6 separate regions of the Homo sapiens genome follow, and regions 2, 3, 4, 5 and 6 are each reported to be linked to region 1. The links are microRNA targets in miRTarBase. Many come from high-throughput screens and were not tested one by one. Region 1 holds a microRNA gene; each other region holds the end of a gene's coding sequence. Distances are between the middles of the regions.

Region 1 (4,000 bases):
TGATTTTGTAGTCAGGATTATAGCAGTATTATCATATTTTCCCACTTTTTTTCCTCATTAAAAAATAGAATTGATGGGGATGGGGGGCTCTTTTCCGAAAAACTGCCCACCCAGCATTTCTGTTTTTTTAATGGGAAACAAAGATAAGTAGAAAGTGTTGTTAATGCCTTTGATTATAGAATCAGTTTACAAAATGTAGAAGAAATCACAGCATTAGGGAATTAGAATTTTACAAATACCATTGTCGTAACAGATTCAGGCAAACACCAGTGGATGCTGAGAGCATTGAGTGAAAGGTTTTTGGGGAACTGGCTAGTCACACAATCTGGAAGTATCAGCCCACAGATTGCTTATTAATTAAGAGGAAAACATTTATTTACAGTGAGGAAACCTGGCAGATACCAAAATAACCAAGTCATAAAATTTGCCACCAAAAATAAAGGTACAACCCGGCCTGCACTTCCTGAAGTGACGAGCTGAGGAGGGACACGCCATCACCTTGTGGTATTCTTACTAGAAATATTTAATTTGGAGATCTAATCATTAGGAAACAGTCAAATCCAGATTGAGGGGCATGGTCAGAACATCTGGATTGGACTCTTTAAAAAGGTCAGTGTTGTGATGAATGGACCGGAAGTGACTGAGGAACTATTCTAGATCAAAGGAGACTAATGAGACATGACAGCTAAGCATGATGCCGACAGCCCCGATTGAATCCTGGACACAAAACTAAACAAGTTAAACAGCTATTAAAGTCATCACCACAGATACCTGAAAATGGACCATCTATTAAAGAACACAGGGTTAAATTTCTTGAGGATAAGTAAATGAATTGTGGCCACGTAGCTAGCCTTGTTCTTAGGAGGGACCGTGGAAGTATTTAAGAATAAAATGTCATGTGTTTGCAGTTTACTCTTAATTGGTTCAGCAAAAATAAATACATATAGAAAGGACAAAATGTTGACAAATCTAAATAAAAGGTCCATGAGTGTTCTCACAGTATTGGAACTGCTCTATGGGTTTGAAAATTCTCAGGATGAAAGTGGAAAGAATAGAATTGTTTATTAAAGTAGCCAGACTCAAGCAGTGTGGAAACAGAAGTTCCTGTTAAAGAATAACAGTGGGGGAAGTTTCTCAAGAAAATAGTTGGAAGCAGGGATCACAGATGGGCTTTCACTGGATTGCCATCTCTGACAGTTAGTACTGGCGGCCAGACGTGGAAGTGCGTGGGAGCGTGGCCGCATCCGTGACTTACTAGCAGTGTTTGCCCAGGGCCTGGGACATGGGAGTGGTGGGGCATGTCCCAAATGTGCTTTGATATTTACAGCGTTACAGTCTAATTATTCTTCACTCTTTTCAGTCACTGCCTCCTCTGACCGGCCCTTTATTGTGAAGCCTACATTTCCTTTGGCGTGAAACTGGGCCAGAGCTCCTCAGATCCTTAAAAGTCAAGTGTCTGAGGCAGCTTTAGGTCAGGGTCTTTGAGCCCTATCAGGCTTTAGGGGTGGAGTATGGGGAGAAGGCCCTTTCTCCTAGGAGGGGACTCCTATATAACTTTCGCCAGATTCTGTAAAAGATTTAAGACCTAAAACTCCAGTCCTTTGCAAGTTGGTGGCGGGCTTTCGTTCTGCTGTCCTCCTGCCCGATCGGCAGGGTCGGGCTCCTCTGCCCGGCTCTTCTCTGTGCTGGTGTAATGACGCCACCGCGAGCGGCTTCTCTTCCTAGTCCAAAAGGTTCCCCCTTTGCTCCTGAGGGCGTGTGGATTTTTGCATCAAGAGCAGGTAATTTTCTACTCTCTTTAAGAGGTGAAAGGAGCCTGATCATAGTATGTGCTCAATAAATATTGTTGAATGGATGGTTGAAATAATTACACACTTCTTTTCCCAAACAGCTTTCCCGTTGAAATTAGTTGGTGTTCTTATTTAGTGTTCTTTGAATAGAATCACATGGATTGGTTTCCTTGGCTACCTGTTCAGCTTTCCTTTCCCTACTCCTTTCCCTACTCCTTTCCTACTCCTTTTCCTACTCCTTTCCTACTCCTTTCCCTACTCCTTTCCCTACTCCTTTCCTACTCCTTTCCCTACTCCTTTCCTACTCCTTTCCTACTCCTTTCCCTACTCCTTTCCCTACTCCTTTCCCTACTCCTTTCCCTACTCCTTTCCCTACTCCTTTCCCTACTCCTTTCCCTACTCCTTCCCTACTCCTTCCCCTACTCCTTTCCTACTCCTTTCCCTACTCCTTTCCTACTCCTTTCCCTACTCCTTTCCTACTCCTTTCCCTACTCCTTTCCCTACTCCTTTCCCTACTCCTTTTCCAGCTTGAGTCTTCAAGAGGGAGCCTCAACTGATTTCTAAAACCGTTTGTACCTGGTGTGATTATAAAGCAATGAGACTGATTGTCATATGTCGTTTGTGGGATCCGTCTCAGTTACTTTATAGCCATACCTGGTATCTTATACCACAGATCATGGCCCGTTGAACAACATTTTAAGAGATTTCTAAAGGGAAATTTAAAGCGGTTTAGCATTATTTTGTGATTGTCTCTAATTTACTGATCACAACTCTTATTTCAGAAAGGTAATTAGATATTAATTAGATGTTTATTGCTTGCTTTAATTTTATAGTTTTTTGTAGATTTTTAATCGGTATTCTGGTAAACTGCTGTTCTAATAAAGTGGCTGTAACAATTTTGAGTAAGGTAGTAAAAAGGTATATGTTCCATTGGGTTACATTTTCCATAAAACTCCTTTTACTGTTGTATTTCTCTTCTTTTTTTTGAGGGTCTTGCTCTGTCACCCAGGCTGGCGTGCAGTGGCGTGATCTCAGCTCACTGCAGCCTCAACTTCCTGGACTCCAGTGATCCTCCCACCTCAGCCTCCTGAGTATCTGGGACCACAGACATGTGCCACCATGCCTAGCTAATGTTCCTGTTTTTGTGAGAGACAGGGTTTCACCATGTTGCCCAGGCTGGTCTTGGACTCCTGAGCTCAAGCAATCCACCTGCCCTGGCTTCCCAAAGTGCTGGGATTATAGGCATGAGCCACCACGCCCAGCCCTGTTGAATTTCTTTTCAGTTGCGTGTAGTCTTCTGTGACTGCATGTAACACAAAGATGGTTCTTTTAGCTAAATATGGTAAATGAAACATGTAAAACCAAATATTTCAATGTGTTATTCATTGAAGAAGGATTGAAAAGGACAAGTTTTGGGGACTTCTGCTTGATTGTTTTGTTGGTTTACATTGATATGTACAAACCTTATTCAAATTCAAATAAGTGGTTATAATTTTCTCTTTCCCAAAATAAAATATTTATTTCCCTTCTAATGACCCCTAGTCTCTCTCAGGGGCTCTCTGGAGAAGGCAAATGTAGAAGCTACATGTTGCCACCGGCAGCTTCAGCTTATGAAAGGACAATCGCTGATAGATTGATAGAAGTTTCTCTGTTTCCTTAAAAGACAGTGGGAAGTTATTTCCTTTGTGGAGGAGGAAAGGGATAGCAGTTTCCTGCTGTCCATAGGAAGAGGTATTCAATTCCTTCACTGTTACTACTTCTGGAAATTATGTAGGGGAAAGGTCTAGGTAACTATAAGGCAACTTAAGACTGTCCTCGTAATTAACTTGCATAGCCTGTGCTTGTGGGCAGACCTCTGGACAACTGTTAGAGGCTGGAGGTATTTCGATGCCAAACTGGTCCAGAATGTTGAAGCCTGGACCTGTCTCTGGAACGTTTGATTTCCAGAAGAGTTCTGGGGTAAACTAGCAAGGAGCCTCAACTCCACTCAAGTCTGGACATAAGACCCAAGTTAGTTTCAGATGTCACTAATAAAAGGTGGCACCATTTGGCACTTTGTAGCTCTGTTACCAGCTGTGTGTCCCCTGTCTCAGTGAGATTAGAAAGCTTGGTATCCTGTACTTGTTTTTGTTCCTGGCACTAGTTCTACAGACAGTGGGTACTCCATGAATGTTCCTAGATTAGTGCAAGAAGTACCAATTTATGCTATA
Region 2 (4,136 bases), 17 Mb from region 1:
TAGAGCAGGGATTTTTGTTTTTTTTCACTCTTGAATTCTACATACCTCTAATGGTCTCCCAAACAGTAGGAGCTCAACAAATGTTTGTTGGATAAACGAAATAGCCCACCAAAAAGACTAAGGCCTGACATAGTACTTCACAGGACTGTTGTGAGGGTTAAATATCTTATATATGTATAGCTCTTAGAAATTTGTGTGGCATATAGAAAGCTCTCAAAAAATGCTAGCTATAGGCTGGGCGCCATGGCTCACGCCTGTAATCCCAGCACTTTGGGAGGCTGAGGCAGGCGGATCACCGGAGGTTGGGAGTTCAAGACAAGCCTGACCAACATGGAGAAACCCCGTGTCTACTAAAAATACAAAATTAGCCAGGCATGGTGGTACATGCCTGTAATCGCAGCTACTCGGGAGGCTTAGGCAGGAGAATCGCTTGAACCTGGGAGGCAGAGATTATGGTGAGCTGAGGTCGCACCATTGCACTCCCGCCTGGGCAACAAGAGCGAAACTCCGTCTCAAAAAAAATAATAATAAATAAAATAAAAATGCTAGCTATTAAATATAACTACAGACTTTTATTGAAGTATATGTTTCCCCATACACTTGCCAACATTGTAGTGTACATATGATGTCTAAATATTTGTAACTGGGAGAGTTGAAAAATGCCTCATAATTTTAAATATTACTTTGGTGGTAACAGTGAAGTCTGTTATATTTTCATGTATTTATTGGTCATTTATATATCCTTTTTTATCAATTGCCAGTTTGTACTTGTATTTTTCCTTATAAGTTTTATTTCATTATATATATGTTTGTATCTTTTAGAATCCTGGTTTTGACTTCAGTGGAGCAGAAATCTCAGGAAACTACACTAAAGGTGGACCAGATTTCTCAAACCTTGAGAAATAACTGCTTTTTTTCCTGCATTCTGTGGATCCTAGCAGATATTGCCAACTTAATCAGATAAACAGATTATGTAATGGAAGAAAAATGCGGATGCCTACAGTTAACAGATTGCAAAATGTATCTTAAAATGGTTCTAAAAATTGCATTCAAACATAATTTACATAGGAAATGTACTGTGGGAACTATTCTATGGATATATGGTAAAGTTGTTTTGGACTTGTTTTTGCTCAGCATGAAGTTTTATATGCTGCATTTTACTAATTCCATATTTAACCATATTTTTAATACAAAAGAACATTAGAGTATAGATCATGTGAAATGAAGGGTGCCTTTGGGGAAAATTAACTTTTTCTTTTGATAAGTATGATATTCAATAAAATTTTCTAAATAGGAATTGTGTACCCCTTTGTCTAAGTATAACAATTCACACAAAATTATAGTGCTGAAAACAATTTTAATAAAGGAAAAAGTCCATAAATGTATTTTAAGTAAATTAAGAGTTAATGTAAATTTCTTAATTAGAATATTATTACTTGAGGGATTACTTTATGTCAAGAAGTTTAAAAATAGTTAAAACCCTAACAATAGAAGTGGATTAACACAAAAGAGAAGTGTGATCATGGTAATTAGGTGAGTCCTTTGTGGCAGAAAGCAAAGTAAGGTCACTAATTGTATATCAGTGGCATCATTTTGATTGTAAGTGATTTAGGCATATAGGTAGGAATTGTCTATAGACATTTTATTCAATATCCTATTTATGTCCTTTTTATTTTTTGCCCTTTTTAACTCTTGAAAAAATTTTAAATCTCATGCATAGAAAAGTTACAGATAATTTTTTTCTTTCTGAACCATTTGTGATTTAGTTGAAGACATGATTCCTCATTACTGATTACTATCTGCTTCAAATTATCTTACATGACTACAATGCAACCATTAGAATCAGGAAATTTACGTTGACACATTACTACCCTCTAATCCTCAGATCTTCACTTCATTCACATTGAACTGATTGTCCCAATAATGTCCATATAGCAAGAGGATCCAGTCAGAATCATGCCTTTCATTTAGATGTCAGCTGTCTTTAGTTTACTTCATTCTGGAACAAATTCTCATTTGTTTCCTTTTACAACTTAGTACTTTTGACAATTATGGGCTAGTTTTGTAGAACACCCCTTATTTTGAGTTCTGTCTGATACTTCATGATTAGATTGAGGTTATTCATCTTTGGCAGGAATGTGATAGAAGTGCATCCTGTCATTGTTTAATAATTTCAGTTTGTCTCATTTCTGATGGTGTTTCTTAGATGACTGATTAAGGTAGTGTCTGCCAGACTTCTCCACTGTAGTTATTTTTATAATTATTTCTTGAGAAGATAGTTGCAAAATACTACCTTGTTTCTGATCAGACTTTAAATTTATCGTATCTCTATAAACTCATTATTTTCTATTTTATTCAGCAGGTTAAAAAACCTATTATCATTACATTGGTGCTCAAAATTATTGTACATTTGGCTGGTAGAAGTCCATTCTGGGTGGCCTCTGTGTCCTTCTGACACATTCCCATCATTATTCAATGAATTTGTTACTCTCTGGCATAAGATATACCAGGCTTCTCATGCTGTCCTCGACCTAACCCAAGAATCAGCCATTTTTCCGTAGAGCCTGGGTTCTCTTTAGTGAGTAATATTTAAAAGCCAAGATCTGTGCTAGTGTGCAATTGCCGTTGGTGTGTATATATAATGCATGTCTTTACATCTATATTTCTGCATCTATGTATATTGAAAACCATGAATTCACATATAAATTCTGATCCCATGGGCTTCATTTTCATTTTTTCCTTCTCCACATTTATAACCGTTTTCAGTACCAGTGAGAAACCTGATTCCTATTTGATTATTTGTGGGGTTTTTTTTTTTTAAGGTGGAGTTTCACTCTTGTTGCCCAGACTGGAGTGCAGTCGCGCGATCTCGGCTTACTGCAACCTCCGCCTCCTGGGTTCAAGCGATTCTCCTGCCTCAGCCTCCCAAGTAGCTGGGATTACAGGCATGCGCTGCCACACCTGGCTAATTTTTAATTTTTGGTAGAGACGGGGTTTCTCCATGTTGGTCAGGCTGGTCTCGAACTCCGGACATCAGGTGATCCGCCCGCCTGGGCCTCCCAAATTGCTGGGATTACAGGTGTGAGCCACTGCGCCTGGCCTGATTCTCTATTGTAGGTCATCTCCCCACATGAATGTCTTCCTCACCCTGCTTAGGCTTCGCATCCTATGCTGAGCAGGAATGTCCTCCTCATCCTGCCTGGACCCTAATACCTCACTCCAGGCCATGGCAGTCCATTCACCCTGTGATTCCTATCTTGCTCATTTTAGGAATGAATTGTCGGGGGAAGAGGCTATTTTTCTTTTAATTTTATTCTCTTTGACATTTAACAAAATTTTTTGAGTAAAGTAAAATTAACTTTTTTGGTGTATGGTTTGGTGAATTTTAAGTATAGATATGTGTAAACACCTCCACAGTCAGAGTATTGAAGAGTTCAATCACCGTAAAAACTCTCGTGCTCTCTTTGTACTCTACACACCCTACTCCCAGCCCCTAAACCTTGGAAACCACTGATCTAATCCCCATCTCCATATTTTTGTCTTCAAGCATGTTATAAATGGGATCATATATAATTAAGAAAAACGCTTTATTGTAACAACATACATTTCACCCATTTAAGGTGTGTAATTCAGTAGCTTTTAGTATATACACAGATAAATGCAACCATTCCAATAATCAATTTTAGAATGTTTTCATCACCTCAGATAGAAACCTTGTATAGTTTAGCTTTTATCCTTCTCCTGTCATCCCCCGCCATCCATACTACCTCTTTTCATCTCATAGATTTCCTTATTCTGGACATTTCATGTACATGGAATCATAATACGTGGTCTTTGGTTACTGGCTTCCTTCACTTTACATGTCTTAAGAGGTTCATCTATATTCGAGCATGTATCAGCACATTCATTAGTATGTCTGAAAATACTTCATTGTATGGCTGTAGCACTTTGTTTATACATTTGTAAGTTGGACATTTTGGGTATTTCCACCCTTTGGCTGTCCTGACTAAAGCTGCTATAAACGTGTACAAGTCTTTATGTGCATATGTGTTTTCATTTCTTACCTAGGAGTAGAATTTTTAGGTTATATGATAACTATGTTAATCATTTGAGGAGCTGTCATTGTTTCCCAAAGC
Region 3 (4,000 bases), not on the chromosome of region 1:
AAGCTGAGAGTCTATGGAACACTGGTTTCCTCCTGCTCAGGACAGTGTGTTATGACATTTGTGGTTACAAATGCCCAATCGGGCCGGGTGCAGTGGCTCACACATGTAATCCCAGCACTTTGGGAGGCCGAGGTGGGCAGATCACCTGAGGTCAGGAGTTCGAGACCAGCCTGGCCAACATGGTGAAACCCCATCTCTACTAAAAATAAAAATACAAAAATTAGCCGGGCGTGGTGGCATGCGCCTGTAGTCCCAGCTACTCAGGAGGCTGAGGCAGGAGAATCGCTTGAACCCAGGAGGCAGAGGTTGCAGTGAGCCAAGATCACGCCATTACACTCCAGCCTGGATGACAAGAGCGAGACTCCATCTCAAAGAAAAAAAAAAAACAAACAAATGCCCAATTGACTCTCCTCTTTTTATAGTGAACTTTGGCTGAATTGGATGGCCCAAAACAAAAGTTTAAGTTTAGGGCCCAGTTAGGTGTGAATGTAAAGACAAATGAACTTTGATAGTCTTGGGAAAAGTTGTGATCTATCTACAAAATGGTGGTGGTGGTGTGTGGATGGGGGCACTAGAGGCAGGCAGTGTCACACGAAGATACACTGATACACCTCACAAATCTTTGGCATTAGACAGATCTGGGTTTGAATCCCAGCTCTGTTTCTTTCCGACCATGTGACTTTGGCTGTTTTAACCTTTGAGCCTTCAGTGTCCTCATCTACAAAATGGTGATAATAAAGTGTCTATCAAACCATTTTGAGATAAAATGATAGAATGTACATACACGTATTTGTGCACAGAGCTGAGTGACTGGTGCTCCCAAATGGTAGCCACTAATTCAAGACAGTTCTGTCAGATGTTGCAGGTAAAACACATTGGTTTTTTATCATTATTTGTTTCTTTTTAAGTAAAGGCTATGTCTATGTGATTAACTGGGTGACAGCAAGAAGTGGGTTCCTGTCCTGTTTGGAGGAAGGCAAAAGAAAATGAAGTCAGTTAAAGCTTTGTGGTGGTGGTGGAGGGTGTGTGTGGATCTTGAAACTCCCCAGGGAAAATGTGTGGGCCAGTGCACCAGAGGGTGCCTGGACCTGGGAGACAGCAGATGGCCCACAGCAGCCTGTCCCCTTCCCCTGGCCCACAAAGCACACGAAGAAGCCAACCAGCCAGCTCAGAACCGGAGGATCTAATGTACTACTTCTGAAAACGGAAATCCACAGACATTCAATACAGGCCGAAACAGACTCTCACCCCAAAAATATTAGTGAAAGTGCATACACTTTATTATGTACATTGTTGGAAAGGGAGGCCACCTGGAGAAACTTCTGCACTGGCACTGTGTTCCTAGAGCTCCTTCTATGCGTCCCTCCCAAGTGATTTAATTTCAGCTGATTGGACTACGAATTCACAAGGCAGAAAAGTCAAGGTCATTTGGTATCTGGAGACAGGAGAACTCAAGGAACCAAAAGCACTGTTACTCTAAGTCTCAGAAAAGGTTTTCAGTCAGGATATGGAGGCTCCTGGTCCTCAAGGGTGAACCACTTCACACAACAGATAAAACCATCATTTTAAAATTCAAAATGTAAGTGCAACTTGAGTTTAAGTTGCACTGCTCCATACCTCTAATAAACTCAGCTAGGAGCCAGGATACATGGTAGTTCAAGGCTTCCTAAAATAAGCTTGAAATTGGGGTACAGGGGAAGGGACATCCATTGGCTGGATGGACAGAGTGGTTGAGCTAAAGAGAGCTATAAAGGCTCGTGCTGGGAAAGAAAGCTGTTATGCTTAGACTTCTCTAGGTGAACTCAGAGTCTCAAAGAGGAAATGTTACAAATGTCACCCGCCAGCTTTCTGGCCAGTAAGCAGAATGCCAGGTTGCTCAGATTCACAGACATTTGCAAAACAGAAGATGTCTCCTAATATTATAGACTAAGAATTTGTTGTCCAGAGGAGCTGACCAGTTCCTCTTTCAGCATCAATATACATGATAGAAGAATGACTAGGTAAATTTAAAAAGACCTACATCTATATAGATATTGTAAGTTTGACAGTATCTGCCCAAGATCATTAGACACTATATAGTCAATATACTGTGAATTCCTTATACTATGTAATGAATGGGTTTGTAATCAACATATTTCACAGTGTACCACAGTTAACAGCATGCAGATAGTAAAATATAATGGTTTCCTGAAGTTATCTCTTAAAAAAGTATTTTAGTCCTTCAGCTATTCAAATAGATATATAACAATTGCATATAGAACGTAGAGAAAATTTTATTAAAAAATTAAAACTATTTAAAACCTGATATATGAAAATAGGCAACAGTGAGAAAAAAGCACTTTTGTGACAAATATTTAGCTGGTTTGAAAGACAGAACAAGGAGGAATCATTTACTCATAAAGAAGGCTCAAATAAGTTAAAACATGGATGTATTTTTAAAATGACCACTCTAGTAGTGAATTTAAAAGTCTTTTAAGGGTTAGAGTAATCTTTTTCATTAGTCTTGGCTATTTCCTCTAGTTCTGACAAGTACAGGCAAGAAAATGGCTACTCTCAAGTAAGGATTATTCTGAAACACGGTCTGGATTTAGAAAATAAATGAACATTAGGGAAATTTCCTTAATTAAGACTCTCCAAACCAGGTGTGGTAGCTCATGCCTGTAATCCCAGCACTTTGGGAGGCAGAGGTGGGTGGATCACCTGAGGTTAGGAGTTCGTGACTAGCCTGGCCAACATGGTGAAACCCCGTCTCTACTAAAAAACAATAATAATAATACAAAAATTAGCTGGGCATGGTGGCATGAGCCTGTAATCCCAGCTACTGGGGAGGCTGAGGCAGGAGAATCTCTTGAACCCAGGAGGCGGAGGTTGCAGTGAGCCGAGATCATGCTATTGCACTCCAGCCTGGGCAACAAGAGTGAAACTCCATCTCAGAAAAAAAAAAAAAAAGACTCTCTGGAGGTAAGGCACATATGACCTGGAGAAGCTGGTTGTGGTGTAAGGTCATCACTTTCTGCAAAGCATTTAGCCAGTCAGCGGTGTCAGGTGGCAGTTACAGCCCAGGTTCTTGCCTCTGGCCTGGGTGCTTAGGGGGTTCAGAATGAGTCAGTGGAAGTCAAAACAAGAGGGATCTAACCTACTACATAATAATCTAAAAATACAAACTTTTAACTATTTTAAGACTAACAGATTACCTTATATAAATCACCAATCTCTCAGTATTTACAAGCTAACAATTCTTTCACCTATTTTTATAACTGCTATACATTCTGGGAACACCACAATTGACATATGGAAAAAGAAAAGCCCTACCCTCTCTTTATGAGTTAAAGGCTAATTTGGTCCCCGACTTCATGCTTGGAAGGCTAGCGCTCATCTCTACACTAGCCTAGATGGCTGTGTTTTGCCCCTATGATTCCTTGCAGCATATCTATGGGCAGAGGGAAGACAATTGTTGAGTTTTTCTCAGCAGCAATGGTGGTCAGTGTCTGCAGGTATCGGAGCTGAAGGGCTGCAGGAGATTCAGTGATGACCATGGAGGCTTCTTTCAGAGCCCTGGATGCATTCATTTCTCCTTCGGCTGCAATAACCTATGGACAGGTGAAAGGAGGGGTTGAACTGGAGAAAACCTCATGGGGACACACAGCACTCTTCAACCGGGGGTATGTATACCTCAGGTGGTCCACAAAACTTTCTAGGGCGTATGCCAGAGTAGTTTTAAGAAAATCAATTTCTACATACTCAGTTTCCATATGCTTCTTTTTCTGAAACTGACTTGCCTGACTAGTGCCTGGATCAAGACATTCTCTTTTACTATAGCCTTTCTCCCATTTTCCAGGGTAACAAACAAAGGGATAATTCAAAATACTGTGCAGGATTGAGAAAGCAAGTAACTTTAATGACTGCAGGCAAATCCTTTTGCAAGTCAGCAGCATTTCCAATTCTCTGATGAGTACCTTACTAAACTGAAAGCTGACAGGTCATTATAAATATTTTTTGA
Region 4 (4,136 bases), not on the chromosome of region 1:
CCACTCAAATCTCATGTTGAAATGTAATCCCTAATGCTGGAAGTGGGGCCTGGTGGGAGGTGGTTGCATCATGGGGGCAGTTTCTCATGGTTTAACGCCATCCCTACTTGGTGCTGTCATCGTGATAGTGAGTTTTCATGAGATCTGGTTGTTTGAAAATATGTGTTACCTCCCCCTTCTTTCTCTTCCCCCTGCTCTGGCCATGTGAAGTGCCGGCTCCCCCTTTGTCTTCTGCCACAATTGTAAGTTTCCTGAGGCCTCCCTAGAAGCCAAGCAGATGCCAGCATCATGCTTCCTGTACAGCCTGTGGAACTGTGAGCCAATTAAACCTCTTTTCTTTATAAATTACCCAGTCTCAGGTATTTCTTTATAGCAGTGCAAGAACAGACTAATACAAAGACTGTGGCAGAGAATGCAGGTGGAGTGCTGAAAAAGGAATCGGGAGGATCAGGCAGGGGCCAGATCACACGGGGCCTTGTGGAAAACACTCATCTCCTTTTCTGTGACATCTACTGTGTCTGCTTGTGATTACAGGTCCACAGATCCAACCGTCCAATCATCTGCAAGGGCTGCAGGAGAACATTCACGAGTCACCTGTCCCAGGGGCTGCGGCGCTTCGGGCTGTGTGACAGCTGCACCTGCGTTACAGACACACCCGATGATGATGATGATTTGATGCCCATCAACCTTAGCTTGGTGGAGGCTTCATCTGAAAGCCAAGAAAAGAGCGACACAGACAATGACTGGCCAATCTATGTGGAGTCGGGTGAGGAAAATGACCCTGCTGGAGATGATTCTGATGACAAACCACAAATTCAGCCTAACTTATCAGACCGAGAGACACTTACGTAGCAATAAATTGGTGGGGAAGAGGAGGTTTTAAAACTTGTTAGTGCTCGTTCTGTTGTTGAAAGATACCATTTGTCCAATTTTGTGGAACCCTGAGAGGAACATTTTTTCACTGTTATTATATGTGCATTTTTATTAGACTATCTGATAGAGGTTGGATTTTGTGACTCAAAGGACAGATAACCTTTTTGTGTGGTGCCCTTGGTTTCTGAGGGCTTTGCTGGCCACTCCTTAATTCTGAGTGAGTCAAAGCAGGCCCTGAGGTCTCCTGTTTTTCTTGCTGTGTGTCCAAACTCTGGTTAGGAGAAAGATAAGAAAATCTCCAGGCTTGTTTTTATATTGATTCAGTCCTCTGCATTCCTTTGTTATCATCCTCTTTCTCTAAAAACCATTAAGTTTTGGGATCAAGTTTACCTTTGCCAAGCCTTTCCTAATGAATTCCACATTAAATTTTCTGGCAAAGTATTAAAGAGAAACCTTCATTGATATAAAGCAGGCAGGGCGGTCTGGCTACATGATCATAAAAGGTACTCCCTAAATCTAGAACAATTTTAAAGGCTTGGAATACTTATGGGCAGACGAACATGGGAATGATCTGAAAGGCTCATTATGGCATCCTGACTTGCCCAGTTGAATTAAATTTTAAGTTAGCCCTGAGAAGGGAGGCTATGACCCCAGGTCTGGATGGTTTCCCTGTCTGGTTTGGCATTTGACGATTCTACACATACAACCTGTTCTGTTATCATAAAACAACTCATTTGGGCAAAACTCAAAATGCTCCCCTACTTTTTCCAGCAATTTCCAAAAGCTGGAGCTGTGTAACTTGGAAATGTAGCTGCCTCTGGCATTCTTTTACTTAGTTTATGCTGATGTAGGGCAGGTGAGCCCAAAAATTGGGGCTTAGCCCAGAGGAGTTCTTGGCTTCACCCAGGAAAGAATTCAAGGGCAAGCCAGTGGTGTTAGACAGCAGCTTGTATTGAAGCAGCAGTGCCCAACAGCAGCTAAGGGGCCGCTCCTCGTGGAGCAGGGCTACACCATAGGCAGTGTGCCCAGAGTAGTAGCTCAGAGGCAGGTCGGCACTTATATTTATACCCACTTTTAGTTACATGCAAATTAAGGGGCAGATTATGCAGCAATATTTAGGAAAATGGTGGTAACTTCCAAGCCGCTGGGTGGTTGCCATGATAAGGGGCAGTGACTTCCAGGTGTTGCCATGGCAATGGTAATTGACATGGCACAGTGATAAGTGTTTCTTATGGAAATCTGCTTCCTGCACCACCCTCCCACCACCGCCCTGTTTTAGCTAGTCCTCAATTTGGTCCATGTCCGAGTCCGGCCTTTGGAGTTGAGTCCTGCCTTCTACCTCCTTGCCTAGAACTTTAATTGGAGGGAAAGTATAAGCCCATAATGCCAAGTAACATTTCTAAAATGTTCATCTTTTAAAAGATCTTCATGAGGGAAAGGGAAGGTTAGTAGCAGAACAGGTTTTTAAAAGCAGTCTACCTTTCGCCCACTTTCCAGCCACACAATTATTGTAACAAAAGAGGCTGAACTCTTTAAAGGGCTAAAGGGCAGGCAGTGTTAGGAATTCGGAATGTAATTGAAGGCAATTTCCATAATTTTGTCTTATGTTAAAATATCCAAAATGGATTTTAAAAGAAATCTTCTTGTCTTCCTTTAAGTGTAGTTGTCTTTCAAAAGGTGGTAAAAGTCACTTTTATTTCTACCTCTTGAACAACAAAAAAGTCAAAAACATTATAAATTGGCTTGTAAATGTTAGCCAAAGCATTAGACAGGTGTTTAAGTCGTACTTCTCAATAGTAGTTAAAACTGGAACAGTGCAACTCAAACTCTGGCCCACAGAGAGGCCCTGTTCTGTAAACTGTTTTCTACCAGTCTGCTACAAGGAAAGTCAGAAATTAAGAATACACATATAGAAATGTTGATAACACTTTGACATTGCTGTGACTCATGGCTTTGTCTTCTTGAGTGAGGTATGGACCAGTTCAGTTCTGGTCAGCTAGAGGGCCACATGGTGCAGAGGTTGGATACCAGCCTGTACAGCAGGACCACGTATTGGTCTGCAGTAGAATGGAAAATTTAAAACTTCTCTTATCACAGGTAGTTCGATAAATATCATTCTTGGCTGTGTGCGGTGGCTCACGCCTATAATCCCAGCACTTTGGGAGGCCAAGGCAGATGGAACACTTGAGGTCAGGAGTTCGATACCAGCCTGACCAACATGGCGAAACCCCGTCTCTAGCAAAAATACAAAAATTAGTCAGGAGTGGTGGCATGTGCCTGTAATCCCAGCTACTCAGGAGGCTGTGGCGAGAGGAACACTTGAGCCTGGAAAAGGTTGCAGTGAGCTGGAATCGTGCCACTCCACTCCAGCCTGGGCAACAGTGTGAGACCTTGTCTCAAAAAAATAATAATAAAATAAATAAATAAAAGAAAAATATTCTAGATCAAGAGTTACTCATTGAAAATTATCAGGGACCAGAGATATTTGTCTTATCTGAAATAAAAATACTAGCTGTGGCCAGGCGCAGTGGCTCACGCCTGTAATCCCAACACTTTGGGAGGCCAAGGCAGGTGGATCACCTGAGGTCGGGAGTTCAAGACCAGCCTGGCCAACATGGAGAAACCCCGTCTCTACTAAAAATACAAAATTAGCCAGGCATGGTGGCGCATGCCTGTAATTCCAGCTACTCAGGAGGCTGAAGCAGGAGAATCGCTTGAACCCAGGAGGCGGAGGTTGCTGTGAGCCGACATCACACCACTGCACTCCAGCCTGGGCAACAAGAGCGAAACTGTCTCCAAAAATGTATACATATATTTGCTGTTATTTTAAAAGAGGGATCTCAGCAAAAAGGAAACCTAAATGGATGTGTAGAAGATTTACTTGGCCAGGAACAGTGTTTGATATTTTTGCTTTCTCTGTTTAAATTATCTCTGATGTTTTAATGACTTTTCTACCTCATAGTTCAGCCTCTTTGCCTGCTTTCTCCAGTGGAGCTATGATCCTCTTCAGTGATTCCGTGACCTCTTCATATCCCTGGGTAAAACATTTTACATTAGAGATTTCACTGTAGGACAGTGATTCTCAGTTGGGGGTGATTTCGTGCCTTGCAGGTGGCTACTGGCATCTAGTGGGTAGAGGCCAGGGAAGCTGCCAAACATCCTGAAATGCACAGGACAGTCCCCACAACAATGAATTCTCCAATTCAAAATGTCAGTAATACCAATGTTGAGAAACTCTGCTGTAAGATAAAGTAGGATTTTTT
Region 5 (4,136 bases), not on the chromosome of region 1:
AGTCCTCTTCGTTGGGAGTATAAAAGACAGACACCAAGTGCAGCACCCAACATTGGACTGGATCCTCAAGCCACCTTAGGAGAGGGGACATGGGGACACAGAGGCCCTGAAGGAGGAAGTCACCTGCCCCTGGTTATGTGGCTGGTAGGCATGGAGCCGCAGGTGCACCAGGCACTGCAGTACAGACCCCCAGAGGCCAGGGAGCACCAGCCGGGCTTTGCAGCTGGCTTTCTCGCCCACCCTGGTATCTGCACTATCACCTGCAGACACGAAGTGTGCAACCAGACCCTGGGAGCTTTCAATCTGGAAGACCGGAGGTGGAAGCCCAAAGCTGCAGGGCCAAGTGCCCGTGCACCCCCGTTTTTGTGGTGGGAGAAAAGATACAGAAACTAAGGGGCTTCTGGGATGCTTCTTTACTTTGCGTAATGTGTGCGTTTTCAATTAAAAGTGTACGTTGATTTTTGTAATCAGATTTAAAACGAAACGAAGAAAAGTCTAAAAGCAGAAGAAAAAGAGAAGCAACAACTCGCAGGCCATCTGCTCACAGGCGTTTTCGGTGGTGAGCACCTGTGAGCCGGTGTCCCTGCCCTTACTTGGGCACACAGACTGGGTGTGGAAGGACACTGGTGCCAGTTGGGCACACAGACTGGGTGTGGAAGGACACTGGTGCCAGTTGGGCACACAGACTGGGTGTGGAAGGACACTGGTGCCAGTTGGGCACACAGACTGGGTGTGGAAGGACACTGGTGCCAGTGTGGCCCCCAGGACATTGACGACGGGTGCTGTGAGGGTGGCAGGCCACATGGGGCAGGGCGGTGCCAGCTCTTTCCTCCACGTGCGGCTTTGGGAAGCGGCTGCCTGGTGGACTTGGTGAATGTGATTTCTGTTCCTTCCAGGTCCTTCTATGGCCACGGAAGAGTGGGTGAGGGGAACACCTCTGGCTCCAACATTACTTGTTGGTTTTTTCTTCACACAAATGAAAAATTCAGCATCTCATTTAACTTAAATACCAGTTTTCTATGAAAGACAAAATGAAAAAATATATAAAAAGGTCACTTTATTTTGCCTTTTGTTTGGTATGCTATCAATGCCCTTTAAAATCCTACTATTCAAGTACAAATGCTGATGTTTACAAAGTATTTACAATTTTAGTCTTGTTCCTTTCTATCTTAAAACACAACAGCTAACTGGTTACAACAGTTAACAAAATAATAATAATAAAGGTCACAAAAAGAGAAACCCCTGTCTTATCAGGCACCAAATCTGAACAAGGGCTTGGATCCAACCTTCTGCTTCCCGCCAGGTGCTTTAAAAACAGTCTGGCTAACTGTTTTTATCATCAGAATAAACGTCTTTCTTTAAAGAATAGCAGGGCAACTGTTTCCCAGGGTCGCCAATTAGAGTCTGACAGTGTTCGGGCTGCTGCCTTTATAGTCTGTGTTCTCAAAGTTTCCAACTCTTACTTGCCGTATTGGAATGAACCCAGATTCACAAGGGGAAGGCCTAGACAACAGCTTCCTGAACGCGTACTTAATTCTTAGGTTAGAAACTTTAACCTTTAAAAGGGAAGGCCAAGAAAATAACACACTAAAAGGAGAGTTTTTACGTACACGACTAAATGAATTTAACTCAGGTCAACGGTAGCATCTAGAAGTTACTAAATTGAGTGCTACGAGTAAAAATATGTCCGTGTTTTGTATTAGGGAACAGCCAAAGGAAACACACTTGAGAGACAGGAGACCCTCACTGACGTGAGATCGGGGCGGAAACTCCACATTGCAAATATTCAGAATCCCATTAAGCTCTCCAAAAAAGCATTTGAGAGATGGTGTTAAATTCTCTTGTAGTGTTTTAGATTAATAGAGCGCTTTTACTTAGACAGTTATGTCTAGGATATTCTAAAATAAGTGCACTCAACATTTTATCTTCAACTATAAGGAGACTACCAAGATTTGGGAAAGACAAAAAAAATGAACAGGGCACACAAATTAAAACAAATGACAAAGGCAGAATTCCTAGATACTTCAGTTCTATCACATCTGCGGATGAGGAGGAGTAAAAGTTTCCACTGGGAGCCAGATGTGAGGCGCACACAGCGGCCCTCCCTCCGGCAAGCTGCGCTCTCACGGCACGTGCCAAGCCAGGGAGAACGGGTTGGTTAGAACAAACAGATTCCAGTCCTCTGCTTTGGTATGTTCAACTAACTAAAAGATTAATTTCTTCTGTTTCTTCAAAGCTTGGTTTTTACTTTTCTCCACATTTCTTATCAAGAGCTCAAGTGAGCTCCCCAGTTGATTTCACTGACTCCTGCTGTATCGCTGTCCACAGAAACCTGTGGGACAGAATACCTTCCTCAATGTCACTTAAAGTGAGAGAATGGGGAGGAAGCAGATGAAATACAATTTAAAAACAGAAAATCTTTATTGTGCCATAACTGATTTTTAGTATACAAAAAACCTAATATAACCTAATTTCCTGGACCAAATAATGTAAAATAGGCCAAAATCAAGCCACAGCACAAAGGATACTATTGGATATGGACCTTTTTGCTTTGGTGAAAACTTCAAAGTAAGGAGACACTGTCAATCAATTCCACTAAAATTGCATTTATTTTCCTGTCATAGTAAAAAAAGGAAAAACAGTAGCAAATACTGGGCTTCGTTTTCCCCCTCAACGGCACGCCTTCCACAACAGCACAGGTGGTTCTCTGCTTCACTGGCAGAACCACACAAGCTTATCCTAGAGAAAATCTGCTGTCGTAAGTCCACAAGGAAGAGTTGACTGGGCCCACCGCTATAGCCAATACTTCCAGAATCACCAGCCCACCTTCGTCAAAGGGCTGACTGTGGCAGCAAGGGGTGTCTGTCACATTCGTCCTGGCTCACTGAGCCCAGGCCTCATCGTACCCTCAGCTGTGACATCTGTACTACCATTGCCTCTGCGTGGTCCTCTGGGCCTCACGCCAGCCATGGCAGAGTGTCCCAAAGGTTCTCAGGAGCTGTTTAACACACTATGTCAAATACCAGCTTCCCCCGAAAACTGGAGATGCGTCTTGAGTGCACTGAGTTGGGCATCAGTCCCAGAAGTTTCCATTAAATGAAAGCGAATCCCATTGCAGGGTAGGGCCTGGGGGAGGCCACTGTTGGCTGCTCTTTGGAATAACAATGCAATGACTGATCATTTCCCTTGAACACAGGCCAGGAACGTGCCTTGTGTGTTTAGGTGGGTGTCAGAACATTTCTCTTAAAAGTTAAGTCATATTTTAGGAGGGAAGGAAGGAACCATATTGCCTTTCTTTGGAATGGAAAACCCATCTCGGATGATTGACTTTAGACAGGCCTTCCCCTCTGCGAAGACCACGAGGCATTTTTCAGTAAGGTATAAAGAACTAAACTCTGGCAGACACTGTGGAAGCCCACGCCTTATCTTTAGAAAGTCCATTGTATGCTCCTCACACACGGCAGACGGCTTCTGTGGCGTGCAAAGCACTACATGCTCACAAAGAAATTCTAAATGGCTTTCAGAACACAGTACTATGGCTCTAGGGGACGGGTGCGGGTGGGGACTGAAAGGTGAAATGATTTAGAGGAAGCCATGTTGTCACTTTTTCCATGAGCCACGTAGTACAGAGAACGCGGCACTCCATAAGGACCATTTGTCCTGCAGTGTGGGATGCATTTTAATAAAATGATTACACTATTTTGTTTCAATTATATCTTTCCCAGTGCTGAATCTCTTGCGTGACATGGTCCCAAGGTTCACTAATAAAGCGTTTTCTGTGAGGAAGGTAGTTTTGCTTTAGATGAGAGGCAGCCCTGCTGCCCTGACTACTGGCACGGAGGCTTAGTAGGTGTCTTTAGCCTGACAGCAGGGACCCTCATCTGTAACTTGGGCTGCTGGCTTGGGCTGTCGGAGCTGGCGGGCACCTGGGCTGGGTTGGGAGCGCCTGGAGTCTGGAGCGGGGCCGACGCCGTGGTCACCACCTGCTGCTGAATGAGTTTCTGCTGAACCACCTGGGCAGTCGCGGTCACTGCAGGGATCATCTGCACCTGCTGCCCGGCCGCCGTCGCCTGCGTGAGCGCCACAGTCTGTGGAGAAGCCTGAGCCGAGAGAGTCAGAAAACACACATTGCCCAG
Region 6 (4,136 bases), not on the chromosome of region 1:
AATGACTCAATTTTAATGAGCAAAGGATTTTAAAACAAACTGGTTCAAAAAATATATAAACAACCAACAAAAACAAAAACCAATGTGCATTATTATTGGTCATTAGGGAAATGCAAATCAAAACCACAATGAAAAAGCAGTACAGAACCATTAATTGGCTATTATGAAAAAAATACGACAACCAGTATATGTGACAATGTGGAAAATAGAAACCCTTATGCATTGCTGGAGAGAATGTAAAACATTGTAGCCACTTTGTAAAGCAATATACCTGTTCCTGAAAAAGGTTTACACCAATTATTCTGTGAACCAGCAATTACACTCCTAGGGATACATATATCCAAAAGAATTGAAAGCAGGGACTCACACAGACATAGACATACCACATCCACAGCAGCCTTATTGATAGCAGTCAAATTATTACTGTGGAAACAACCCATGTTTATCAACATAAAAATGGATAAACAAAGTATGCTTTAACCATACAGTGGAAATTTATTCAGACACAAAAACAATGAGTTCCTGATACATGCTACCACATGGATAAACCTTGAAAACGTTCTAAGTGAAATAAGCCAGACATGGAAGGACACATGCATACTTCCACATATCTCTCTCTCTATGAATAGTCAAATTCACAGACAGAGAAAGTAGAATGGAGATTTTCAGTACTTTGGGATAGGATGGAATAGGTAATTACATGTATGGAACACTAAGTAGATAGAGCAAGTAGCACAGTAACACGTATAAAATGATCCCTTCCTTTGTGTATTCTAGTTTGTACCAGCACTGTAAGAGGCTTCCAGATGAGCAGTTCCAGTGGTTAATGTTGGTAGTTCAAAGGGTAACACTGCCCTCTAGGCAACATCGTGGAGGTCTATTTGAGATATATTTCACTACAAGTTATTCTCATGAATACTTCAATGAAACAGCTCTTATCAAGGCCCCCAGTGACCAAATACTTGCCAAAATCTACAGTCAACCCTTTTTCCTTGTCTTATTCAAATTCTCAGTGACCTGTGACACAGCTGACCACTCTCCCCATATTGAAATACCTTCTTCTGGAGGCTTCCAGGAGAAGAAACCCATGTTTTCCTCCTACTACTTCATTGGGTGTTGGAAACCATTATGGAGTGAGGAAGTCAATGATTTCAGGAGCTTCTCCACTATTGATGAAGTATCAGGAATATCTCAAATGCTGCAAGGGAGGTTGGTGGGGAAAACAATCTATGACATGCTTGAAGACTTTATTGAGGAACACATTGACAGGACAAGAGCACCGCCATCTTTATAACACTCCACCATCCTAAGCTTTAAGTTTCTATTTGGCCACCTGGCCAAAACTGAAAATGTCAGCCCCGCCCATAACTTCAACAGAGAATAACGGCCCTAACTGTAACAGAACAGCCAGGACTTCCCCAACCCCTCCCTAACAGAATTTTGTTTCAAAGCACACTTCTCCACTGGGCCCTTTAAAAAAGCCTCAGGCTGTAAGAGAAGTTTGCACCTGACCCTGCCGCTGGAAGCCCTTCTCAGGTTTACTCCCAATAAAACTGTCTCAACTGTTGAGCCACCTTCTCATCTCTCCTTTCCTTAATCTTTCTATCCCAACACAAATAAGAGAGCATAAATACTAACAAGGAACTCGAAGATATACTGAAATTCTCTGCAGATAATGATGATAATGATGATGCAGAAGACTTAGAAGAGGTAATATCAAAGATGTGACACTTGAAACATGTGCAGCAGTTTTTGGGGCATCTACAGCCTCTGCAAGGTGAAAAGTATTAAAGATTACAATCCTCGCAGGGCACGGTGGCTCATGCCTGTAATCTCAGCACTTTGGGAGGCCGAGGCAGGTGGATCACCTGAGGTCAGGAGTTCGAGACCAGCCTGACCAACATGGTGAAACCCCATCTCTACTAAAAATAAAAATTAGCCAGGCATGGTGGCGAGTGCCTGTAATCCCAGCTACTCTGGAGGCTGAGGCAGGAGAATCGCTTGAATCTGGGAGGTGGAGGTTGCAGTGAGTCGAGATCGCGCCACTGCACTCCAGACTGGGCAATAAGAACGAAACTCAGTCTCAAATGATAAATAAATAAATAAAAATAAAAATAAAATAAAGATTGCCATCCTCAAGTAAGATCCTTCAATGGAACAAAACCTCTGTGTCACCCAAGGGATAACATGCCAACAAACACTGCAAGGATATTTAAAGAAAAAGAACCAGCTTCCTACAACAATGTTTCTAACTAAATATCTGCAAATATGAAGACAGATCCTTCAGTGTGTACACATCTTCAGCCCTCATGCTGAACAGATTCTGACATTAGTATTATTTAGTCTCTTCCAAACTCAGCATCTGCAATCAGAACCTGGTTCATCCAACACAGATGATCATCCTGACATCCTGTCAAGATTCAAGTGAGCCTGATGTCTCACTGTTTATCTACAGTGCCACCCATCTAGTCACCTCAGTGAATCATATTAGGCACCATACTGTAATCAGCATCATCATGATCATGATCATCATCATCATCCTTGGGTTATCAAGCAAGAAGGATCAGGATTTTCATAAGTGTTAACACACGATTCCAGGTCATTAAATAAAAGCAATCTATGATTGTTGAAAAAAAAGAAACTGTAGATTACAGGCTCATGCCTGTAATCCCAGCACTTTGGGAGACCAAGGCAGGCAGATCATCTGAGGTCAGGAGTTCGAGACCAGCCTGACCAATATGATGAAACCCCGTCTCTACTAAAAATACAAAAAAAAAAAAAAAAAAAAAAAAATTAGCTGGGTGTGGTGGCATGCATCTGTAATCCCAGCTACTCAGGAGGCTAAGACAGGAGAATTGCTTGAACCCGGGAGGCAGAGGATGCAGTGAGCTGAGATTGTGCCATTGCCCTCCAGCCTGGGCAATAAGAGTGAAACTCTGTCTTAAAAAAAAAAAAAAGAAAAAAAGAAACTGTAACATTCTAGGTGACATGTACTATGTAGGCAGGCCTGTGATGGTTGGGTCTGTTCTCAACAGCACAGGATTATTTTCATATCACGATTCTCTAAAAAAAATACAATAAAATGACTGTTTACATAGCTTTTACAACACATGAGGTATTTTAGTAACCTACTTTTTATTTTTACTTTTACAAAAGCTTTGGGTTGGTGAAAAATTAAGTAATCTAGGCATGATTTATGGGATGCAGGAGGATGTGGATAGGTTACATGCAAATGTCCTTTTATAAAAGGAACACAGCATCTGTGGATTTAGGTATGCTTAGGGGGTCTGGAACCAATCCCCTGCATATGGTTAGGGGATAACCATATTCAAAAGAAACATCTTAAGGCTTTACCATGTGTTTGCATTCATGAGGCTTATCTCCTATGTGATTTCTTTCACGTTTCTGAAATGAAATAAAATTAATGAATGCTTTTCCACATTTATAGAGTATCTCTCCAGTGAGTCCTTTTATGTCTATGCAAGGAACTGAGAGAACTCAGTGCCTTCCCACATTCCTTACATTCATGCATCTTCTCTCCAGTGTGAGTTTTTTCATGTCCTCGAAGGAAACGAGAACGAGTGAAGGCTTTACCACATTGTTGACATTCATAAGATTTCTTTCCAGTGTGAATTCTTTCATGTCGCAGAAGGCAAGTGAGCCAAGAGAATGCTTTCCTGCATTCCTTACATTCATATGGCTTCTCTCCAGTGTGAATCCTTTCATGGACTTTTAAGTTACCAAAATGACTGAAGGCTTTCTTACATGTTTTACATTCATAAGGTTTTTCAGCCATGTGAGTCCTTCTATGTTGAGAAAGGTATGTGAAACAACTGAATGCTTTCCCACATTCCTTACACTCATATGGCTTCTCTCCAGTGTGAGTTGTTTCATGATTTTGAAAGGAATAGAAATCAATAAAGGCTTTCCCACATTTACATTTATAGGGTTTCTCTCCAGTGTGAGTTGTTTCATGTCTTCGAAGGGAACTAGAAATACGGAAGGCTTTACCACATTCTTTACATTCATAGGGTTTCTCACCAGTATGAGTCCTTTCATGTCCTTGAAATACACTGGGATAAATGAAGGCTTTCCCACATACCTTGCATTTGTGAGGTCCATCTCCAGTGTGCATT

What was found. The annotated mature microRNA hsa-miR-340-3p reads UCCGUCUCAGUUACUUUAUAGC and lies in region 1 at 2,418-2,439, shown strand. An mRNA with a match to its seed (bases 2 to 7 or 8) in the 3' UTR can be bound and repressed. Matches are read on the target gene's strand: a 7mer-m8 pairs with bases 2 to 8, a 7mer-A1 pairs with bases 2 to 7 and ends in A, and an 8mer does both.
Region 2: the mRNA of NUDCD2 is a reported target of hsa-miR-340-3p. Seed matches in the 3' UTR shown: 7mer-m8 at 2,986-2,992.
Region 3: miRTarBase lists STOM as a target of hsa-miR-340-3p. Seed matches in the 3' UTR shown: 7mer-m8 at 2,746-2,752.
Region 4: miRTarBase lists ZBTB8B as a target of hsa-miR-340-3p. The part of its 3' UTR that is shown has no 7-base or 8-base seed match.
Region 5: miRTarBase lists EP400 as a target of hsa-miR-340-3p. The part of its 3' UTR that is shown has no 7-base or 8-base seed match.
Region 6: the mRNA of ZNF442 is a reported target of hsa-miR-340-3p. Seed matches in the 3' UTR shown: 7mer-m8 at 2,750-2,756.

Annotation. Positions count from the first base shown.
Region 1 is chr5:180,013,758-180,017,757 of GRCh38, reverse strand. It overlaps MIR340 (microRNA 340), which reads left to right and starts at 2,361; the gene lies at 2,361-2,455. All of the region lies in intron 2 of RNF130 (ring finger protein 130), which reads left to right.
Region 2 is chr5:163,450,737-163,454,872 of GRCh38, reverse strand. It overlaps NUDCD2 (NudC domain containing 2), which reads left to right. Exons shown (of 4, transcript NM_145266.6): 4 at 823-4,136. The coding sequence ends at 906. It also overlaps a transcript of CCNG1 not described here. Among named protein-coding and RNA genes, the nearest start is that of NUDCD2, 7.3 kb to the left of the region's middle.
Region 3 is chr9:121,337,819-121,341,818 of GRCh38, forward strand. STOM (stomatin) reads right to left here. Exons shown (of 7, transcript NM_004099.6): 7 at 1,169-3,590. The coding sequence ends at 3,384. Among named protein-coding and RNA genes, the nearest start is that of STOM, 30 kb to the right of the region's middle.
Region 4 is chr1:32,484,567-32,488,702 of GRCh38, forward strand. ZBTB8B (zinc finger and BTB domain containing 8B) reads left to right here. Exons shown (of 4, transcript NM_001145720.2): 4 at 535-4,136. The coding sequence ends at 852. Among named protein-coding and RNA genes, the nearest start is that of ZBTB8B, 22 kb to the left of the region's middle.
Region 5 is chr12:132,077,365-132,081,500 of GRCh38, reverse strand. It overlaps EP400 (E1A binding protein p400), which reads right to left. Exons shown (of 53, transcript NM_015409.5): 53 at 1,041-4,100. The coding sequence ends at 3,828. Among named protein-coding and RNA genes, the nearest start is that of SNORA49, 48 kb to the right of the region's middle.
Region 6 is chr19:12,346,259-12,350,394 of GRCh38, forward strand. It overlaps ZNF442 (zinc finger protein 442), which reads right to left. Exons shown (of 6, transcript NM_030824.3): 6 at 1-4,136. The coding sequence ends at 3,443. It also overlaps a transcript of ZNF563 not described here. Among named protein-coding and RNA genes, the nearest start is that of ZNF563, 15 kb to the left of the region's middle.